3 separate regions of the Homo sapiens genome follow, and regions 2 and 3 are each linked to region 1. Evidence: fine-mapped expression QTL. A gene starts in region 1. Each other region holds a variant in brackets. All regions are shown on one strand. Distances are from middle to middle. Region 1 holds the start of STK32C (serine/threonine kinase 32C). Region 2 overlaps STK32C (serine/threonine kinase 32C). Region 3 overlaps LOC124902526 (a long non-coding RNA gene).

The links. PIP is the estimated chance that this variant, and not a neighbour inherited with it, causes the effect.
Region 2: its variant is fine-mapped to the expression of STK32C in whole blood (TOPMed, PIP above 0.99).
Region 3: its variant is fine-mapped to the expression of STK32C in fibroblasts (GENCORD, PIP 0.92).

Annotation. Positions count from the first base shown.
Region 1 is chr10:132,303,936-132,311,265 of GRCh38, forward strand. It overlaps STK32C (serine/threonine kinase 32C), which reads right to left and starts at 4,015. Exons shown (of 12, transcript NM_173575.4): 1 at 3,637-4,015. The coding sequence starts at 3,898. RefSeq lists a silencer at 3,839-4,488 and enhancers at 4,741-5,285, 5,286-5,828.
Region 2 is chr10:132,251,614-132,258,943 of GRCh38, forward strand. All of the region lies in intron 1 of STK32C (serine/threonine kinase 32C), which reads right to left. Among named protein-coding and RNA genes, the nearest start is that of STK32C, 53 kb to the right of the region's middle. RefSeq lists enhancers at 2,640-3,141, 3,142-3,641. The variant G/A (reference allele first, on the strand shown) is at 3,382.
Region 3 is chr10:132,388,500-132,395,829 of GRCh38, forward strand. It overlaps LOC124902526 (a long non-coding RNA gene), which reads right to left. Exons shown (of 2, transcript XR_007062342.1): 1 at 6,162-7,330; 2 at 4,316-5,831. Among named protein-coding and RNA genes, the nearest start is that of PWWP2B, 5.0 kb to the right of the region's middle. RefSeq lists enhancers at 1,029-1,708, 6,619-7,142, 7,143-7,330. The variant T/C (reference allele first, on the strand shown) is at 3,351.

The sequences.
Region 1 (7,330 bases):
CCTGTCTTGTCAGTCTCTCTGCTTCCCCTCTGCCCGGTTACCCCACGACAGCATGGCCCATAAACAATGCTCAGAGAGGGACCAATTGAGCGGCCACACGTGTTAAGGTATTTCACACGGACCCCTTTGCCTGAGCAATGTCGTTCCTAAAAATGTATCCTAGGGAAACAATGCCAAGTGCACAAAGATCTGCAACGATGTTCATCAATACGTCGTTTATGATATTTATAAAACAGAAACACCTCACAGTCCTGTGACAGGAAACTAAGTAAGCAGAGAAAGTCACAGCTGCTCAGGGGAGCACTGCAGAGTCGGGAATCTCAGCCTCGACTGCTGGTAAAACTCAAGAGGGGCTTAAAAAAAAAGCCTGAGCCCCTGAGCCCCACCCCCAACCCACCAAACCCCCCCAGTTCACCCACAGTTCACGGGTGTGGGGCTTGAGCATCTGCATTTTTTAAGAGTGCCCAGTGAATGACTCGGGTCCACAGCCTGGGGCTGAGAACTGTTGTAAATTCAGCCAACAAATGATGCCTCAGGTCTGGAAGAGGCTGGCAACATATCGCTGAATCAACAAGCACCTTACGGCAAATTGGCATGCAGAGCAGGATCCCACTTCTGCTAACAAAGAGAGAGTGTTTCTCCACGGCTGTACCTGGGACTGTATTTCCAGAAAAAGGCTGGGAGGTGACACCGTGATCCCAATGCTGAAGTTACAGATACCGTGGCATAAAGTATAGAATGTTTTTAAATGCATACATTTTAATGCTTTCATAATTAGGAAAAAACAAAGGTGTTTCTAATTTTAAGAGATGACTTGAGGAGTCTGGTGGCCCCTGGTCCTGCCTCACTGCCTGCCCGGCCCGGCGCCCAGGGCGGGCCGTCCACAGCCTGCAAGGGCCTGTCCACTCCAGCCTTCCCCAGATGAAGGCAAAGCCCCTCAGGGAGGAGCTACTTCCTGCTGGCGGGCTAATGCCACGTCAGGCTGGAGACTCAATGCTGTGACCCCGAGACGGGCGAGCGCCCCCCAGGTTGCAGAGCTGCTTAGCGGGAAGGTACCGGAGCCTCCTCTCAGGTTCACTTGGTATCACCAGGACACCAAGACAGAGAGGAATGAAGGGGCTCGCCCAACGCCATGCAGCTCTGGTGCAGAGCAGCAGCAGAAAGACCCCCTAACCAAGTTCAACCCCAAAAATGAATTTTTCACCGAAGTCAGAGAAGGGATAGAATGGGAGCATGTGAGGGGCTGAGGGGAAGGAAAACTGGAGACCCTCAGTTCTGGCATGACAAAGACGTGCAGAGAATTCTGTACATGCACCAAATATCTGCCAAATTAGGAAAATGGTTCTGGAGTCCACAAGGATTAAAAGGAACAGAGGACATTTAGTCTTATATGTCGCAACTATGCCTATCAGTTGAAATTTACCTGGCACTTTGTTAAACAGCACTCTTAATTTCTTTTTTCCTTTTCTCTGCATACTAAATTTGATATATTAATTAGGTGTTTTAATCTAAAAAATTCATCGGAAGGTCTAGCATTGCCATAGCAACCGTGCAGATTCAGTAAACTCGAGACACCAACACAGCACCAGGGCCTCCTTAAGCCAGTGCTGCCACGGGGCCACGAAAGTACCAGGCAAATGACTGCACCAACCTGAAAGGGGTGGGACTCAGGGGCAACAGTCCCTTCCTAAAAGACTCTCCTTTCTCCTTCCAAACTGAATCCCTTCCACCAACACGAGTCCCCGGCATCCACACTCAGAGGTGCAGAACATTCTTCTGCAAACCCTGTGCTATGACTCCCAAGTTGTCTGTGCCCTGCCAGTGACAGGAAGAAGCGGAGGGAAGCGGTCACCGCCCAGAGATGTCCTCTGCTATTCGGGCCAGGGCCTAGTCTTGCCCTCCTGATTTCACCACACAAAGCCCAGCTGAGTCCCGGCGGGTGCTCAGTTTGGGGATGTGGCTGCATACCAAGCCATACGGAGCCAGCAGCATCCGTGGGACACCGTCAGCCGAATCTCTGCCGTCCTACTACAGGCAAATACGGTGATGCTGGGGATGTGAAAGAATTCCCAAGTCAGACCGTGAGCCCCACAGACAGACTCTGTGCTTGCTCTTTTTGCCTTTCTAGTGATCCTTGAATTCTGTGACATAACACACTGTGAACACACAGGGAAGTCTACCCTACAAAGCTGAAGGCAGCCCAGTGCCACACCACTGTCTCCACTCCCACCCCCGGAGAGCACGGTGCCGAGACCCAGAAGAGCAGCCAGCTCTTGGCTGACACCAGCAAGTGCTAAACCAGATGCGTTTCTCAGACGTTCTCTCAACCCGCAGCCAGAAACGAGAGGCAAATCTGCCTCCTGATCAGCTCCTAGTTCACTCTGGGCTTTCTTTACTTTGAATATTTATGTTAAAAACAAAAACATTTCTCAAACATTCACCATCGTGAGTTCTGCTGTCCCGAAGTTCAGGACACAGTGACGGGCCACCCTGGAGCGTGTGGGGCCTGGTGTGGCTGGGCCTTCAGCCCTCCTTCTAGGCAGCACACCATGAATCCCCGGTGCCGTCTCCCGGAGGAACGGCGGTGCACGGCCCCACACTCACCAACGCCGGCCTGAGGTCGTATTACTGTAATTTCCCATAATGCTTAAATTATTTATCGCAAGTAAATAGCCTGGCTCCTGAGCGCTGGGCTCTAAAATTTTGAAGGATCCATCATACCTCTGCACGCTATCTATAAATGAAAAATGCACATTTCAAGTATTTTAAGAAAATGTCAAAAAACATGAAATGTGTCATCAATGTACGATTTTAAATGATTTGCATGTTACCTGTAGAAAAGAGCTGTATGTCTGCATGTGACTGTATTACAGTGCCCACAGGCAGACGCGGCACCACATCTCCCTGCAGGTGATAATTCGGGGGTCCCCGGGGCCCCCTGGCACCCCGGGAGGTGTCCCTGCAGGCCTGTCCCATGTCACCTCACCTGCCTTCTCTGCTTTCTATGGCGCCCACGGCTGCACGGTCACTCAGGAGACACCAGTCCCCGGGGTTGGCGGCTTTATCTACAGGACTCAGCAGCGCACTCGTTCCTGGCAGGGCAGGTCTTTGCACAACGGCCTGGCCCTGCCTCCAGCGCACATGGGTGAGCAGAGGATGGACACCGCGCGGTCACCAAGGAGACTGAGCCTCTGAGCGGCCGGGCCCCGCCACCTGTGGGGCAGGAGCCTCACTCGCACTCGGGCGGCACAGGTGAGCGCCTCTCTAACTGCAAAGTACAAACGAGCCCGCACGTGGGCCCGAGCGGATCACGGAAAGCGGAAAGCAGGGCTGCCACGGGCGGTGGGCGGAGGCGCGCGCAAGCCCGGAGACGCCACAGCCGCGGGGGACCCTCGCCCCGAGGGCCCGGGCCCAGCCTGCTCCTCCTGCGGCGCCGCCACTAGAAACGGAGGACGCGGGCGGGCGCCCAGAACTCGCGTGGGGCCGCAGCCACCCGGCGCGAGCTTCTCCGGAAGCCGGGGCGCCCCGGGAAGCCGTCCCGGACACCGGGGGAACCCCTGCGGGAAAAAGCCGCCCAGCCGCGCCCGCCCCTGCAATAGCGCGCGGCCCCCACGTCGTCCCCGTGCCCGCACTCACCGTCCTCCTTGTCGTCAAACACCGGCCTCCGCGCGGTGGCCGCCGACATGGACGAGCCCATCCTCTTCTTCCACTTGCTCCACTGAAACAGGGGGCGCGGCTGCGAGCGGACATCGCCCGAGTCCCGGGCCCGGGGCTGGCCAGCAGCGGGCGGCGGCAGGGCCGAGGGCGCGTCGGAGCCGGCGGGGCGCGCGCGGCCGGGGGGCGGCGAGCCCGGGGACGCCGCGGCGCTGCTGCCCCTGCGCTCGGCGCCACTCCTCATCGCCGGGTCTGGGTGCGCGCGGCAGCCGGAACTCGGGGCATGGCCGGCCGGCAGGGCCGGGAGCGGCAGTGGTAGCGGGAGCGCTCGGGGCCGGCAGCGCCCGCCGTGCGCTCTTCTGGGCGGTGGAACCCGCCCCGTAGATTGCGAGCGCTGGGGGCGGGGCAGGGGCGGGGCTTCTGGAAGGGGCGGGGGCGGGGCGGAGCTCCTGGAAGGGGTCGAGGCGGAGCTGAGCGCCGGGGCGTGGCAGGTGCGGAGCTTCGGGAAGGGTAGGGGCGGGGCCGAGCCGGGGGCGGGGCAGGGGCGGGGCTAGTGCCTGGAGTGTCGCTAGGGAGTGGGTGGCCGCCACCAGTCTAGGGATGGGGGCTGTGGTTCGCCGGGACACGGGGACCACGGCTCAGACTAGACGGCGGGTACGAGAGCGAGGGAGGCAGGGAGCGTCCCCACGGGTATCCTGGGGCCCCGGAGGTCGGCGTCCCTGGCACGGGGACTGCTGTGCCCGGCACGGCGGCGGGACCTTCTCGCGGTCTCCGGGGGCCTCCCTCCCCTGCCTTCTTCGTGAAAACAGCCGGCGCGCGGGCTTCCGCCGCCCAGTGCGGGGAGCCCTAAACTCCAGCCTTCTGCTTTGCGCAGGGTGAGGCCGGGCTGCAGGCCCGGGATGCGGGCGGCGGGAATCTGCCGGGCAGAGCCCGGCTCACGGTCAGGAGGCGGCAGGCTGAGTCCAAGCGCTGCGCCAGAGGGTGGGGTGGGGCAGGGCGGGCCTGGCTGCGCGCGCGCACACGCGGGCGCCTGGGGTGGGCGCTAAGCCCTGAGCACGTGCGCCCGCGCTCTCGGGCACCCCCGTGCCATCCTCGCGACCCCCGTCCGGCCTGAGACCGCGTGCCCGAGTCGCCCAGGGTCCCCTTGTCCAGATGCGACAGGGGCCTCGGCACTCGGCGTATTTCGGAGGCCTGGGGCGCGGCTTGACCTCCGGGCACCTCTGCCCCTGCGCAGGGCCAGGCGCGACCTTGCGCGGAAAGTGCTGGGCGCCTTGGAGTGCCCTGGAGAAGGCGCGGCTCTGCATGGAGCCTCGCCGCCTGCCCCTGGCGCTTGTCACTGAAGAATCAGTTTTTGCTACCGGGCTGTTTGACTTTAGGAAGCCTTTACCTCCTTAAGTTCTGCCCTGTAACCAGGACACAAAGACGGGGTCTCTTCCTCCTCGGTGAAATCCTAGATGGGATTTCCTGCTGCCCGCCCGGACGATGAGCGGATCCCCAACATGGCTCCAAGGCCAGTGTCTCCCGCTCCCGTCCCTCCCACCGCACACAACTGTCTACCCTGTCATTCAGCCACTGTGAGCCCTGCCTCCCCACGGCCTTTGACATTCAGTGTGGCCGCCCGCCCTAACCGCCTGATGCATGAAATGTGAGCACGGGAAGTCTGTGTGGCTTCTGGGCCAACAGGAGCCCCCATCCCTTGGGGACTATAAGGAATGGAACCATGCCCATCTACCTAGGACATGCACCCGCCTGGACATGCACCCGCCTGGACATGCACCCGCCTAGGACATGCACCCACCTGGACATGCACCCGCTTAGGACACATGGCATGCATTTCACTACTGAGATTTAGAGGGTATTTTTATGGCAGCATAACCTAGGTTACCTGACCAACCAGCCACCGCAGCTCTCCCTGCCTGGCTAGCACAAACGCATCGGTCTCTAACTTCCAGTGCACAGAGCCGAGTTTTCAGCCCTTGCAGCTGCGAAGCTCTGTTCCCTGCTCTCCCTCAAAGTTGCCATTCTCCAGCAGGCACGCAGAAGGCAGTGGGTTCAGCACCTGCCTCAGAGGAAGCCCTCGGTGCCCATCCCAGCAGGAGTGGTGAAGGAGCGTTTGGAAGGGGAGGTACCAAGGCAGGGCAGTGCCTGGAACCCTGCGTACCCGGTGCACACATCAGACTCCCCAGGGCTCCTCCCAAAACACGCAGCCTCTGAACTTACATCATCGCCTCTCCTCCTCTCCCTCTGACCCCTAAAAGTGGCAGAAAAGGAATAAAAGATATAACGTCCCCACCACCACCTAAGAGGGAACAGGAGAAGGGAAGACATGTTAATAGACTTCAGACAGCAGGTAGAAAGCTGACTCTGAAGATTGGAGAGGCTGAGGACCTGCAGGTAACCAGGACCCCAAAAGGCGGGAGAATGTGAATACAGCCAGAGCCCAGGACGCCTCCCCGGCCCGGGCAGTTGGGGATGGACAGTCCTCTGGTCTGAGGGTCCAAAGGGGCTCTTGACCTAGGGATACCAAGTCCTGCAGAAGACAAGAGTGCAGGGGGGCAGAGGGGTTCATGGGGACATCTGCACACTTAACTAGGAGACCCTCCAACCTCACCCTTGCTGTGAGCCTCAAACACCAAGCCAGGCACCTGCCTCTCAGTCAGGAAACAGGAAGGATCTGTAGGGAAACAGCAGCTCCCAAAAGAATGCCGGGTCCTAAGATTTGGCCAGTGCAGATCAGCCCTGGAGGGGCCTGTGGGCTCAGGGCACAACTCTTGTACTGTCCAGGTGCAACTCTTGTACTGTCCAGCCACGGCTCAGGGTCCAGGCAAACACAAGACTGAGCGTTAAGAGGTGCACAGTGTAGGCATGAGACAGGAGGGGTCAGGAACTGCTGTCCCCAAGAGGATGCCAACCCCTGGTGCCTCATGGGAGGTAGCTCTGAAGTTCTAGGGGGATGCTGGGAGGGACTGAGGCTGGGACAGAGTCAGCTGTGGATGGGAAGGGGCAGTGAGGCCAGTAGAGAATTCCTGAGTTCCCCTGTGTGCCCATGCTGCCCGGGAACGTCAACTTCATTAGGGCAGCGATGGTGTCTGCCCCTTCCAATGACAGGAGACCAAGTGACAATGTGACAGATAAATGCATTCAGTGCACTGACGTCTAGCACGCAGGAGCACACAGGAAGGCACATGGCTGGGCAGCACGTGCATGATCGTGGGACCACTTTAGCTTGGGTAGTCCAGCATGAGTCTCTGAGCAGGTGACCTTGATGCTGAGGCCGGAGCATGAACGAGTAGCCCAAGGGAGGCCAGGTGTCCGGGTTCCAACAGCAGGAGCTGGCCCTAAGGTAGAAACCGGCTTGTGCGGGAGGACAGGAGGGTCCATGCTGCAGGACAGCAAGTGAGTGGCCGTGGCATGTGCTGAAGGGCTGGGGGTGGTTTGGGGGACAAGGTGCAGTCCCTGACACCAGGCTTCATGTGCATTTGTTCATAATTCGTCCATAAAGCCACGCCTCCTGAGGGACATGCCTTGGACATGGGTCCTCCGTTGCCACATAATTGGCACACAGCTCAGTCACACCGAGATGTGTGCTTCATCTTCTGTCATCATTATGAAATTAACACATGCTCTGCCCACGCCTTTGTTAAGAGTCCTTTTATTAAATCTCCTCAGATCACAC
Region 2 (7,330 bases), 52 kb before region 1:
TCGACTCTGGCTTCTGGGGGTTGAGCCCTGAATGCAAACCCTCCACTACCCACCACAGGCAGGTCAACACCCTATGCCTCCTGGGGCCTCCGACCCTCCACTACCCACCACAGGCAGGTCAACACCCTACACCTCCTGGGGCCTCCGACCCTCCACTACCCACCACAGGCAGGTCAATGCCCTACGCCTCCTGGGGCCTCAGACCCTCCACTACCCACCACAGGCAGGTCAATGCCCTACGCCTCCTGGGGCCTCAGACCCTCCACTACTCACCACAGGCAGGTCGATGCCCTACGCCTCCTGGGGCCTCAGACCCTCCACTACCCACCACAGGCAGGTCAATGCCCTACGCCTCCTGGGGCCTCAGACCCTCCACTACTCACCACAGGCAGGTCAATGCCCTATGCCTCCTGGGGCCTCCGACCCACGCCTCCCCCTCACATCCCCATCTCATCCTGCTGGGCCCCTCAGGGCTGGACTTTGGCACTGTCTGATCAGAAGTCTCTGGCCAAGAACCCGCTAGGGACATGGCGGCCTGCTAACCAGCCAAGGTCAGAGGTCACCACATGAACCGCTGGCCAGGCCCATTCCAGACCCAGGAAGGAGGGAGACAACCTCCTGGAGTGAACTCTTCAGTGTGGGGGAAACACTCAACAAGCCCACAGTGTGGCACCAGGTGCCAGGGAGGGGGCTAAAGCAGGAAAGGGGGAGGGGGCTGCCATCCTACAAGGCCGTCGGGAGACATTTCTGAAGGGGACATTTGGCAAAGAAGTGTGGGCATGGGTCGTGATTACGGGGACCAAGACTGGTCTGTCACGCTCCTCGGCGTGATTTACGCCGTGCAGTGATGCTGTCAGCGCATCCTTCACCCGTGCTGTCCACCTCTCAAATTAAGACGCAGGTAAAAGGAGAAGCAGACGCAGCTCCCCACAATCCCATCTCACAGCTAGGGGGCTCCTTCCCAGGAACCAGGACACATCTGCCTGAAGGAAGCACCTCTGTACTTGTGTGCACCCAACGGCGGGCGTGGGATGGACGGAGCGGCTCGGAGCTCCGGGCCCACCAGCACCTGCCCTCATTGTGCAGCTTGGCCAAAGGGCCACAGACACAGTCTTCCCAGTACAGCAAATGCATTCGAATCCAGGGTCTTTAAAATATTTATTCTTCAAGGAAGGCTTTTATTTTTTTGGTGTTGGCAACTGAGAGCAGGTCCTATGAGAGTCGCCATCTGAATCCCGCTAAGTGACCCGAGCGTGGGGCCGCCTCCTCCCAGGTCACTCTGGATTCTGCATCCACACAGGTGGGTTGAGAAACCAACACCAGCCCCCACACCTCCCACGGTGTCCGGCAGCCTCTCCAGGTCCTCCCCAAGGGCTGCTAGCTGGGGTCTCAGTCCCTGAACCAGGCCCCACAATCAGAGATAGGTTCTCTTGAGACTTGTCAGCGCTAAGCCCAGCACCCAGACAGCAGGGACGTTCGTCCTCCCTAACGCAGCATTTCCCTGTTCTCAGAGAGTTTTGCCACCATCTCCAGGCTTACCAGGAGCAACAAAATAACCAAAGAAAAGGCAAGGAGCTTTTCCGGAAAGCAGCACTCCAACGCAATTGTTTCTGGTTTCTGGGTTGCCAGCACAGGTGGCCCAACCACATGTCTGCCTGGAAGGTCCTGCCGGGCCTGGGAACTGGAACCGGGCAAAAGGAAGCTGGAGGGAGCAGAGGGAGCTGGAGGGAGCCGAGGGAGCTGGAGAGAGTCAAGGGAGCCTGGGGAGCCGAGGTAGCTGGAGGGAGTCGAGGGAGCTGGAGGGAGCTGGAGGGAGTCGAGGGAGCTGGAGGGAGTCGAGGGAACTGGAGGGAGCTGGAGGGAGTCGAGGGAGCTGGAGGGAGTCGAGGGAGCTGAGGGAGCTGAGGGAGCCGGAGGGAGCTGGAGGGAGTCGAGGGAGCTGGAGGGAGTCGAGGGAGCTGGAGGGAGCTGGAGGGAGCCGAGGGAGCTGGAGGGAGCCGAGGGAGCTGGAGGGAGCTGAGGGAGCTGGAGGGAGTCGAGAGAGCTAGAGGGAGTCCAGGGAGCCTGCGGAGCTGAGGGAGCTGAGGGAGCCGCCCCTCCACAGCACATCTAAGGCCAAACACCGGCTCGAGGCGAGAGATGGCCAAGACGTCACCTCTGGCATGGCTACCACCAAGTCCAAGGCAAAAGCGTTAGGTAACATTTCAACACTTTTCCCCAAGAATAAAAAATGATCTGCCCTCCCGTGTGCCTGGCTAGAACCTTCCTCCCGCCCTGCAGGGACCCGCCTCTGCGTCTAGCACTCGGCTGAGTGGCTGGCCCACATGGGCATAGAAAGAGCACTTCCAATAACAAACCATGTTAGGAAAGCCCAAAGCCTCAGTGGAGTTTCAGGTTAAAACCTAGTCTTTTCAGGCAGGGCGCGGTGGCTCATGCCTGTAATCCCAGCACTTAGGGAGGCCGAGGCAGGTGGATCACGAGGTCAGGAGATCGAGACCATCCTTGCCAACATGGTGAAACCCCGTCTCTACTAAAAATACAAAAAATTAGCCAGGCATAGTGGCGGGCGCCTGTAATCCCAGCTACTCAGGAGGCTGAGGCAGGAGAACGGCATGAACCCGGGAGGCAGAGGTTGCAGTGAGCCAAGATCGCGCCTCTGCACTCCAGCCTGGGCAAAAAGGGCGAAACTCCATCAGGGGAGAAAAAAACAACAAAAAAAAATAGCCTTTTCATAAGCCAGGGCTTGTATCAAAACTGGTAAGAAAATACTCCCAATGAGGACAGCAAAAGAAGAGAGGAGAGTAAAATAAGCCTGCCGCAGGGCGCCGGGAATCAGCACTATGTCACCCCGGCACAATGCGTGCACCCTCCACGAAGGCTGCCCCCAGACCTGGGAGCCCAGGAGAGTAAAATAAGCCTGCCGCAGGGTGCCGGGAGTCAGCACTATGTCACCCCGGCACAATGCGTGCACCCTCCACGAAGGCTGCCCCCAGACCTGGGAGCCCAGGAGAGTAAAATAAGCCTGCCGCAGGGCGCCGGGAATCAGCACTATGTCACCCCGGCACAATGCGTGCACCCTCCACGAAGGCTGCCCCCAGACCTGGGAGCCCAGGAGAGTAAAATAAGCCTGCCGCAGGGCGCCGGGAATCAGCACTATGTCACCCCGGCACAATGCGTGCACCCCACGCGAAGGCTGTCTCAAGAGCTGGAGAATCAGCTCTGCTCCTGACACCCCAGGTCCCCTCTTGATGTCTTTGGAGGCCCGGGAAGTGGGTGCTGGACAGTTTCAGAGCTGCCACGTGGTGGATGAGCTGCCCACAGCTGCAGGCGTGTCCCAGGCCTGGGACGCTTCCCTTCACAGCCCACCCCACCCACTCATCC[G/A]GAAGAGGCCCCCACGTCCAAGTGTCCTCAGGCAGAACCAGCCCGTTCACCAATGGGAGGATTGCACAGCAGAAGTGGGCACTACTGTGAGAGCTGTCACAAAGATCAAATGTCACACGTGGTTGAAACACACGCAGAAGTTGATTAAATGCCGTCTCGTCTCCTATGACCTGGGAAGTGCTTATGATGAGGAAAATCATCCCCCAGGACTCCGAGACGCAGGCCCCGCAGAGCTTGTGCAGCCTCTGGGGATGTCTGGCCCACACGGGGCTCCTGACTTAGGAAATACCGGGCCAGGTGGAAGAGTTGGAACCGGCCCGATAGCTCCTCCTGGCAATGGGTGCCCCCCACTCCCACTCCTCAGGTGCCCTGGCCCGCTAGGTCAACAGGAACCACAGGAGTCACCAGACATCACCTCACAGACCCCTCACCCTCTTGCCATGGCCTGCGGGAACAAAGACCCACCACGCTGACGGGCAGGGTTGACGCAGATGGGGACAAGACAGGTGGGGGCTAGAGACAGGCATGAGAGCCGCTGGGCAGGGGTGAGGAGGCTCCCGAGTTACAGCGGAGAACATAGAGCAGAAGCGTCCAGCCACAGCAGCACCCAGGAGAGGAGCAGGGGGCCCTGCAGGAAGCAGGTCCCTCAACCCTTGCTGAGCCCCACGCGGTTTCCTGCACCACTGAGGATGTGTTGAAACCCCAGGGCAGGAAGGTCAGAGATCAGGAGAGGGGATGAGGGTGTGGGTGCCGGCCTCTGACCCTGGACTCCTCAGTCCAGAGGGGGCCTGGAGCCTCGAGGTCATGCCTGGGTGCCAGCACCATGGCCCAGCATTACGTGCGCTGCCCACGCATCTCCGAGGGCCCAGCTGGCCACCTTCTCCTTCTCCACCGTCCCCTCACCCAGGGGCAGACCCCCATGACCAGCAGCCTGCAGCCTCTGCACACCCTGGAGCCCTGGTGTCCAGCTTGGACTCGCCCGGGTGGCTTGGCGGCTTCCCGGCATCCCTGGGCAGCTCCGGGACAGGGCTCTGTCCTCAGCTGGCACCACCACCCTTCCAGCCTCGGGGAGCCAACTGGGGTCTTACTCTGGGAACATACCCTGTGCCCCAGGCTCCATCTTGGCAGCGATGCCCTCACCCTGTCTTTTCTGTGAAACAGACACAGCCAGGATGTGGCAGCAGCCCACAGCTGAGTCCTGTGGGGCCCCTGGGCTCCGAAACAATTGTGGCTTCTCCTGCCCAGGTACACACCCAGAGCCCGGGGTCCTGGTGCCTACACCTCCAGCAGGACCCTGTTGGCGGCAGCATTCTTGCCATCTCCCTCCCCCACCTTAATTGCAGTGAAAGCTTCCACCCATAAAACAGGCTCAGTGGCAGCTTCCCAGGCCAGCACTGTGGATCCTGGTCCTGTCTGGTCTGAAATTGTCTGGAATCATGTTCCGGTGTTTAATATCGACATCCTCAGACAACACGGGGATCTGCCATAAATGAGTGATTAGGGCAACCGCCTGATCAATACAGTATCTCCGGGTGGCAGAGGCTCAGGCCTGAGACCGCAGTGCCTGAGACCGCAGGAGTCGCCCACGGCAGCAGGGACCTGGGCTCCTCCAGCTCCCCAAACCGCTGGAGAGGTGGGCAGCAGCACCTCCCCCCAGGCTGCCTAGAGGGGTCCTACTGTCCAAGGCCCGGCCCCACCCACCCCTGCCTCTCACTGCGCAGGGCCCAGCACCCCAGGACCACCCACAGGGGCAGACCTGGAGGACTCCAAGGCCGCCTGGCCCTGCAGCAGCTGAGAAGCCTGCTCCTGGGGCTGCCCGCCCAGAGGCACAGATGCTTGGGGACCCCGGAGCTGCAATGGAGACAGCCCTGACTCGGGGTGGGGCTTGGGGTTCCTCCTGAGTCCTGAACCCTGAGGCAGGTGTGCCTAGCCAGTGGGGGGGACGCTGGCCACAGCAGCAGCAGCACTGGATGAGGGGGAGCGAGCCCAGTGGGATCCCAGGGCTGGGGATCAAAGCAGAACAGCCCAGGAAGGAGCCCTGGCCAGGAGCAGATGGATGGGCAGGGCCCTGTGTCCTGGGGTGTGGCTGCACCAAGGGCCACACTCAGGGCTCGCTGTGGGACCAGCTGGGGGCTGCCCATGAGGCTGGGTCCTCAGGGGGGTGAGGCCTGTGGATACAGGACATGCCCTGAAAGACCCCAGAGGTCAGTGTGTTCAGAGGCCAGCACGAGATGGGTAGGTGTGTGGGTGGGTCAAGGCTGGAAAAAGCCCTGTCCACGTGTCTGTCCTTCCATCCTCCCACCTGCAGCCCCTGGGGTCCTGCACAGCCCTCCCACACCCGTGCCACTGTCTCCCACAGAGGGAGACGGAGGGGCTCCTAGGAAGAGGTGGCTCCTGGCAGCCACAGGCCCCTAGGCCAGCGGGCTGTGGTCATTCAGGGTGCCTGAGAGCTCCCAGGGAGAGGGGCAGAGCTGGAGGAGGAGTGACTCAGAGCAGGGAGGGAGCATCACACCCCCCAGCCAAAGAGATGGGCGGGGCGGAGCTGCGAAGGAGTGGGTGGCAGGATGCTGCCTGTTCTGGCACAGAAAGCCACATCACCCCTGTCCACCCCATCTGGTGCCCACCCCCTGCTGCCGGCCCCCTGCCCTGCCCTCTCTCTGCCTCTGTCCCCAGGGGCGCCCACTGTGAGCCAATGATGGCAATCCCAGGCCTGACACCCCCACAATCCTCCCCCCAACCCCCACCCTCCACCAGGCCCCTCTGCAGACACTAGGAGGGGGCCCCAGAACCAAACACCCCCAGGGGACCCATCAGCTGCCCTGGGCTGGGGGCTCCTCTACACCTGCAGGTGGGACTCAGGGCTCTCGAGCCTCCACTGTGCAGCCTGCCTGAGGCCCAAAGGAGGCCGCGGCCCAGCAGGCCCCTGAAAGCCACAGGCCCTGACATGGGCTGCAAAGACCAGCAAGGCTCTCCTCAGTGCACGGACTCCACCTGCCCCGGGAAATCGGTCAGGACGAAGGGCTCCATGTCCCAAGTGCCCTCACTGTCCCTGTCCTTGTCACCCCATCACACACATGTGCTGATGAATGCCGGCTGAGTGGCCCCCCAGGACCTCCCCGGGAGCAACAGCAAGTGTCCCAGCCCCAGGACATCGGCCCTGACCTGACCTAGAGAGGGGGGCAGCTGCCTCTCCTGGATCTGCAGTGGACAGGCAAGAGGGCCCAGCTGCCAAGGCTGGGCAGGTGTCTGCCGGGCACAGCGGGAGCTTTGCTCCAAGGTGGCATGAGCTCCAGTCTGATTTTCACACACATTAGCACTTGGTAGAGTGGAAAGCACCTTTCCCCAAACCATCAACAGCACTCGAAGAGTTCCTCACAGCCTCCTTTTCCTAAAATGGAAAGCGTGGCCCTGGCCGCCCCCCATCACCCCCCACGGGGCCCTTCCAGGGCTCTTTGCAAAGGACAGGTGGAGCCCGTGTCATCCTCAGGACGGGTCCAGTGCGCTCTCCTGGGTGCCTAGGCCAGCGCGTTCTCCTGGAAGGACAGGTCCAATGCGCTCTCCCGGGTGGCTGGGCCAGCGCGCAGGCCTTCCTCTGGAATTCCTCCCAGCCCACCGAACAGGAACAGGGCGGCGGGCTCACAGCCGGTCCTCTGGGCACCTAACGCCCTGGGTACCGACTGCTGTCCACGCTGACGCTGTGAGGGCCAGCAGGCCCTGGAAAGGAGCTGCTTCTGGACTCACACGTATTCCCACTGCCCCTCCTGAGCGGGCCCAGGCCACACGGTCGCACACCTCAGGGCCGGATGAGGATCCCCAAACACCACAGTGCCGAGGAGGGGCTGCGAGGGCCTCCAGGGCATGGCCTCTTCCACAACATGAAGGTCTCCGCCCGTGGGCAGACGGGGGTTGAGGATGACCAGTTCATCAGGAAGGAATTTTATCCTAGAAA
Region 3 (7,330 bases), 85 kb after region 1:
GCGGGGGCGGGGGCTCATGCGGGGGGCGGGGGGATTCGTGCGCGGGCGGGGGGCTCATGCGGGGGCGGGGGGCTCATGCGGGGGCGGGGGGCTCATGCGGGGGCGGGGGGTTCATGCGGGGGCGGGGGGCTCATGCGGGGGCGGGGGGCTCATGCGGGGGCGGGGGGTTCATGCGGGGGCGGGGGGCTCATGCGGGGGCGGGGGGGCTCATGCGGGGGCGGGGGGCTCATGCGGGGGGCGGGGGGCTCATGCGGGGGGCGGGGGGCTCATGCGGGGGCGGGGGCTCATGCGGGGGGCGGGGGGGCTCATGCGGGGGCGGGGGGCTCATACGGGGGCGGGGGGCTCATGCGGGGGCGGGGGGCTCATGCGGGGGTGAGGGGGCGCACCACGGAGCCGCCTGCAGGGGCTCGGGGGCTCTCATTGAGGGAAGCAGCTGCCCGGCCCTGGAGGTCCCACGCCAGGCCATGGCAACAGGGTTAGCATTACAGGGCAACGTCTCAGGCTGAGAAAGCAATCGGCCAAAACTCCGGCCCTCCTGGCTCCCTCAAGGAAGCCTGGCTCATCTCCTGTGTGGATCCCTGAGTCCTGCACCCCAAGTGAGCCCAAAACAGGAGGGCCAAGCCCACAAACGTCCGTGGGCAGCCGGCCAGGGAAGGTGCCGTTCAGGCCCCATGCGCTCGGTCCGGGTCTCAGGACACACAGCGCAGAACCCGGCGTGGGCCTTGGGGCGTGAGGCCAGAAGCGGAGTTCACGTGACCTCAAGGACACCCTGCCGGACTTCCCCAAGTGCTGGCCAGGCCTTGGGGGCAGCTGGGCTCAGGTCCCCCTTGTCACTGTTGGAAGCTGGCCCTGCACCCACTACACTCACCAGTTCCTCCGTGGGGTCAGGAGGCTGGGGAGACCCCTCAGGGCTGGAGCCCAGTGTGGGGGCTGCTCTCCATCCAGGGCTGGAGCTGTCAGGGTGCTGCCTGGCTGCTCCCTCCACCCGGGAAGGAATGAGGCCCTCCCAGCAAGCTCTGCTCCCCTCAGGCCCCAGGCTGCCCAGAGGCCCCCCAGTCAGCCTTTCTCAGCCAGAAGGTGTTCATTTCTGTGCACCTGGGAGAACGCAGGCGACAGCCTCCAGCGCCCTCCAGCCCTAGCCCAGGGGATCCTGCTCCTTCCTGCACCTCCTCCCTCAGGCATCCTGTGGGGGACAGCACGAACACCTGGCCTCTCCTGGCCACTGGAGGAGGGCAAGGACAGGAGCCCCGCAGCCCAGCCCAGCTGCACGCTGCTGCACCTGCTGACACACCAGTGCCTCCCTAGATCCAGCACAGGGCTCTGCTCTCGGCCCTCCAACCACACCTCGGAGAGCCCCACTCTGTCTGTGGGTCTGCCTGGGGTCTACACCTCAGCTCAGGACAACCCTGAGGTCACCTGGACTCCGTGTCTGTCCCCACGCCCCAGGGCTCATGCCAGGTTCTGCATGTGGAGGGGTCGGGACAAATGCATAGCCACACCCACCAGGAGGAGGGTTTGAGGGGAAAGAGTTTGCAGGGAGGCCCCTGGGCCCCAGGCCACCACACTGTCTCCCCTAGGAGTCTCTGCCTGGAGGGAGCAGCACAGGACCTTTCCTACCTACCCCCTCCCCACCGCCCGCCCCGCTCTGGACACAGGCTAGCTCCTGCTCGTTAGGTGAGTGGGAGGTCAGGGTCGGGGAGCAGAAGGCATGAAGGTGCCTTTGCAAGCTGGGCGTGAAATGTGAATATACCCTGAGAGGGTTTTCTCCAAGTATCCCAGATGTGGATAACAACTGGTTTAATGATGAAATATCATGGTGTTTTTAGCAAACAGAAGCCCCGCCTTCTAGTATGAGGTTTGGCAAAACTGTCAGATTAAAAAATAAACCCACAAGCAGGGCATGGTGGCTCAAGCCTATAATCCTAGCACTTTGGAAGGCTGAAGTGGGAGGATCACTCGAGTCCAGGAGTTCTACACCAGCCTAGGCAACATGGCGAGATTCCGTCTCTACTAAAAGTAAAAAATCTGCCAGATGTGGTGGCTAACACCACCAGATACTCAGGAGGCTGAGGTGGGAGGATTGCTTAATCCCAGGAGTTTTTGAGGCTGCAGTGAGCCATGATTGTGCCACTGCACTCCAGCCTGCACGACAGAGCAAGACCCTGATTCATTTAAAATAAATAAGTCCCTACAGCAAAGACTTCTCATGAGGTTGGTGAGGTACCTTACAAAATGACACCCCAGGAGGTGGCCTGGGGCTCTGGGCAGTGTTTAACTGTGGGAGTTTCTCATGGTGTCCATGGCTGTGTTGACAGAAAGGTGCTAGTCTGGCTGTGGGGCCCACAAGCATGGGCTCTGTGAAGGGAGACCCCAGCCTGGCAAGGCCAAGGGGCCCAGCGTCCACCCAGAGTGCCTCTGGAAGATGCATCAGGACACAGCTCGGCTGCCTCCCTCACCTCGTCCTCCTCCGCACTCAAACTCCAGAAAGCAATCAGAGAAGACTGCCGTCTGGGAGGTGCCTCTCCTGGACTGGAAGCGCCCGAGTGCCTGCTGTGTTCCAGGTGCCCGGACCCTAGAGTGGTGGGCTCGTCTCCAGCAACCTCCACAGCAGGCACCCTGGAAGACCCTAGGGCAGGAGTGCAGCTTCACCTCCCTGTGGACCAGCAGCTCCAGGGGCCTCCAGCTTTTAAGTGCTTCCCAGTCTGTGTGAGCTGCCCAGGCCAGGCAGGGGCCTCCCGGTCTGTGTTTGCTTCCCAGGCCAGGGGCTTTTATGGGAACGTAAGCTTTAGGACTCTTATTCTGTGACAGGCCACTTCACACTGCACCTCTTCGTGGAGAACCTCACCAGGAACGTGCCAGCGTCCTTGGTCGTGGGTTCTTCTGAGAGAGATCCATGTCTGGCCAAGCCGTTTGGATCAACATGGGGGAGGCTTTTCCTCTCTCCAACATTAGGACCTCAAGGGTTAACTTCAAGCCAGGAAATGAGGACTTTAGATCCTGGGAATGGCCTTCGGAGGAGAGAGCTTACAACCTGCTAAGCGAGGCTGCTATGTTGCCTGTGATCCCAGGGGCCCTGGGCTGGGTTCGGGTGTTGTGGATTGGTTCTCTGGTCATGGAGAACAGCACGGGTCTTGCTGAGAAACAGCCAGCTCCTTCAGAAACAGAAGGGTCACACATCCACTGTTTGGAAACCAAAGCAGTTGTCTGGGGATGGGATGCCCCACCCTAGAAATATCTTTGCCCAGATGCTGCAGCCACAGGGCCTCTCGAACCTGAGTCTGGAAGGGATTCACAGCCACTGCTGAGAGCCAGCCTGGCCCTGGGGGCTGCCTCGGCTCCCCTGCCAAGGA[T/C]GTGGGAGAGCACAGGTTATGGGGTCAGAGGAGGCTTCAAGAGCAGCTACCTGGGAGCCACTCACCTGCCTGGCTTCTTCCGCATCACGGGCCTCAGCCAGATACCAGCAGGGGCAGATTGCACACAGAGCATGTGGGCACAGGGTTTGCATCTCCTACCTGGCCCTGAGCATAGCACAAGGCCTCAGGTGTACCCGAGGATCCCACTGAGGGCCCAGCTATACAAGTATCATGAGAGTGGTGGTGGTGGTGATCATTTTGCTGGTGATAATGGTGATGGTGATATGGTGATGGCGGTGGTGGTGATGATGCTGATAGTAGTGGTGATGGTAGGTGTGATGGTGGTGATGGTGGTGGTGATAGTCATGGTGGTGATGGTGACAATGGTGGGGATGGTGGTGGTGGTGTGATGGTGATGATAGTGGAGATGGTGGTGGCAGTGACAGTGATAATGGTGATGGTGGTGTGATGGTGGTTGCAATGGTGATGGTGATAGTGATGGTGGTGGGGTGATACTGATGATAGTCATGGTGGTCATGATGGTGATGGTGATGGTGGTAGTAGTGATGGGGGAGGTGGGATGGTGATCATGATGATGATGGCAGTAGTGGTGATGGTGATGGTGGAGGTGGTGGTGGTGATAATGGTGATGGTGATGATGGTGATGTGATAATGGTGATGGTGATGGTAGTGGTGATGGGGGTGGTGGTAATGGTGATGATGGTGATGGTGATGATGGTGATGGTGGTGATGATGGTGATGGTGATGGTGATGATGGTGACGGTGGTGACAATGGTGATGGTGATGGTGGTGGTAGTGATGGGGGAGGTGGGATGGTAATGCTCATGGTGATGATGGCTGTAGCGGTGATGGTGGAGACTGTGGTGGTGATGGTGATGCTGATAATGACAAAAGTGTTGATGATGGTGATGGCAGCTAACTCATGGAAGCTTTACTGGGGCTTGTGCTGTACTAAGTATCTCATTTAATATTAACTCATTTAATATTCAGTACGAGGCTACACGGTAGGTACCATCATATTTCCCACTTTACAGATGAGGACACTGAGGCACAAGGGAGGTGGCAGTCTCCCCAAGGTCACATGGCAGGACTCTAGCAGTTTGGCCTCAGAGTTTATGTGCCTGCCCAGCTCTCTGCACCACCTCGAGTGGAGTCTTGGCAGGTTCTGTTCCCAGCCGGTCCTTTGAGATACTGCCTCAGGGGATGTGACCCTATATCATCCTGATAACCCAAGGGGCAGGGAGACAGCTCCAGAACAGACAAGACAAAGTTGGCCTTGTAGACCCACACTGCCCTCCAAGGGCTTCCAGACTGGAGCAGAACAAAACAAACACTGCCCAAAGGATCTGTGGCCTGCTAGAAGGTCGAGGGTTCCTGGCTCAGCATCTGCAAAGATTGCCTTGAGCCCCTGCCTCAGACGACACGACAAGGGACAAGGAGTGTGTTCCCCAGGCCGGCCTCCCTGCCAGACACCTTGGAGGAGGCCTGGCGTGCTCCTGCTCCCTAGTCTGTCCAGGCTTCTTGAGTGATGAATGGTTGCTTACTGAAATCAGAGCAGGCCCTCTGTATTAAAGGCTTTATCCTGTCTCCTGCCTTCCACAGCTGCTGTGGGCAAAAGGCTTGCCATGAGGCGACCTGGGTCCCAGCCTCAAGGCCCATCCCTGCCTTTGGCCTCTGGGCACCAGCTCTGGAGAAATCTGTGGTCTCTGACTCATGGCTGTGTCCTGCGAGGCCTCCATCTTGACCAGACACCTTCGATGCATCTCAGGAGCACCTCACTATGCTGCATGAGACTTGCACACAGCCAGGCCCTGGTGAGCTCCAGTAAGATCAAGCAAGCCCAGGTGTGTTGGGGGTTGGGGGGATACCAGGTGATTCTGGAGCAGGCTGGACACAGGCCAGGCTGTGGCTGCACCTCAGTCATGGGGAGGCCGCTGTAAGCCTCATCTCGTGGAAGAGACCAACAAAGGCTGAGAACCTGCTCACCACTGCCCTTCCCAAGTCTCAGTGATGATGTAGTGCGGTAGGACAGTGCTGGGCAGGTCCAGGTCCAGCAGTCAGGAGGGCCCTCTAAGCTCGGACCTGGGGGAGCGACCCTGAAAGACGAGGGGCGGGCATGGAGCTGGTGATGCAAGTGAGCCAGGCTGCCAGGGAGGACAAATCCTGGAGTTCCTCCAAGGACCGCAGGGGAGGCAGACCCTGAGGGGAGGTGGCCTGCGGGGTTCCTGCCTTCCTCCCCTGCTGTCTCAGGGGACATAGAGGCCAGCCCCTGCTTCCTCCTCCAGCCACCTGTCCCTCCCTCAACTGTACCCCTTCAGGCCACCCATCCTGCCAACTGCTGGTCACCCACCCCCAGCCCCGGTGGAAGTTCCGGACACTCTCCTGTCCCCTTGGCTTACCCCATCTGACTGGCTGGGCCGTCCCGAGCTGGGCATGTCCTAGGCCTTGCTGCGGCTGTGCCTACAGCCAGAGGACCAAAGGCTTTAGGACCTTTTGTTTGGATCAAGTCTCTTGAAGACAAAGTCTAAAGACCTCGGAGGTGTCTCTTCCCACTCTTGGCCTTTTCACCCCAGCCAGGGGCGTACTCCCGAGGCTCCTCTCCAGCCCAGCCAGGCAGCTCAGGGTCCTCTCACTGTGGGCAGCACCAGCCCCAGTACCCAGGGTGCTTCCCAGAACTGGGCAGACCTCACTGACTGGCATGAGCAGGGTGGCCTCTGGGGAGATGCTCAGAGCAGCAAGCCTAGGACAGCCTCCCAACCCCCGAATACAGGGTCAGACAGGAGGGGATACCTGGGCTGATGAGGTCCCCAAGGACACCTGCACTTTAATCGGGGACTCTGGAAACTCCCATGGCCTCTTCTTCAACAAGCAGGTTGGAGCGGGGCGGGAAGCAAGTGGGAGCAGGTGCGGGGGCAGGGCTGCTGGGGGAGGCCCTGAACAGCCACCGTTTAAGTTGCAAAAATGGTCTCCCTGTCTGCAGATGGTCTTTTTTATACCTTACCTAGTGGAGAGCAGGTTTTAAAAACGGCTTCCAAGTTCACTTAACAATACACAGTAAATAGCACGGGCCAGAGGGGAAGAGGCAGAGGGAAGGCGGGCAGGGCAGAGGGAAGGTGGGCAGGGCAGAGGGAAGGCGGGCAGGGCAGAGGGGCAGGAGGTACCATGGGCCAGCCGTGCTTCTCACTGCCCTCTTCCCCTCTCCAGCCAGAGCTGCCAGCTGCTGGGTGCATCTGTCTGGCCCTCTGTGCCCCGGAACCCTCTTCCCCTGTCCTGCCCGCCGCCACCCAGCCTTGGTTCCTCTCAAAGCCCAGCAAGTCCACAGGTGGGTCCCTCAGCACACCCCAAACTGTTCCTCCTGCTGGCGTGGGAAGTCACCAGGAGCCCCAGGCGCACGCAGACACCTTGCAGAGGATCCTGCCCACCCCCACCCCCACCTCGGAAGCCCTTGCTTTTGCCCACCTGGTGGGGCCCTGGTGAATGCTGGTGCTCCCCTGGACACTCTTTCTGGATCCCTCCACCCACATACAGCCCCCTGTGCATTAGCCCCACCCCATGCTGGCCCCACCAGCCTGAATGCTGATTCACCCTGGCAGTCCCCAATGCTCAGAAAGGGCAGTGCCCAGCAGGCCTCTCCAGCAGGCAGGAAGAAGAGCCAAGCAAGTGGGCAGCCTCAGGATGGCCGCTCAGCCCAACCTGGAGCAGGGTGGCGAGGGGGTCCCTGCTGCCTGGCATTTTTCCTCCAAAGTCAGCCCCACCCCTGGAGGGGGCAGCTGCAGAGGCCTGTGGGCAGGACAGCAGGCAGGCTCCACTGCAAGCCTGGCAACCAGTGGGCAGGGGCTGGCTGACCCTGGAGAACGGGGCGCCTTGAGGTGCCTGAGGCCCCAGGAAGGGCTTAGTGTTGGCGGGAGCCCCAGGCCACACAGAGGAGGACAGACACTCACTGGGCTTCCAGGCCTCCT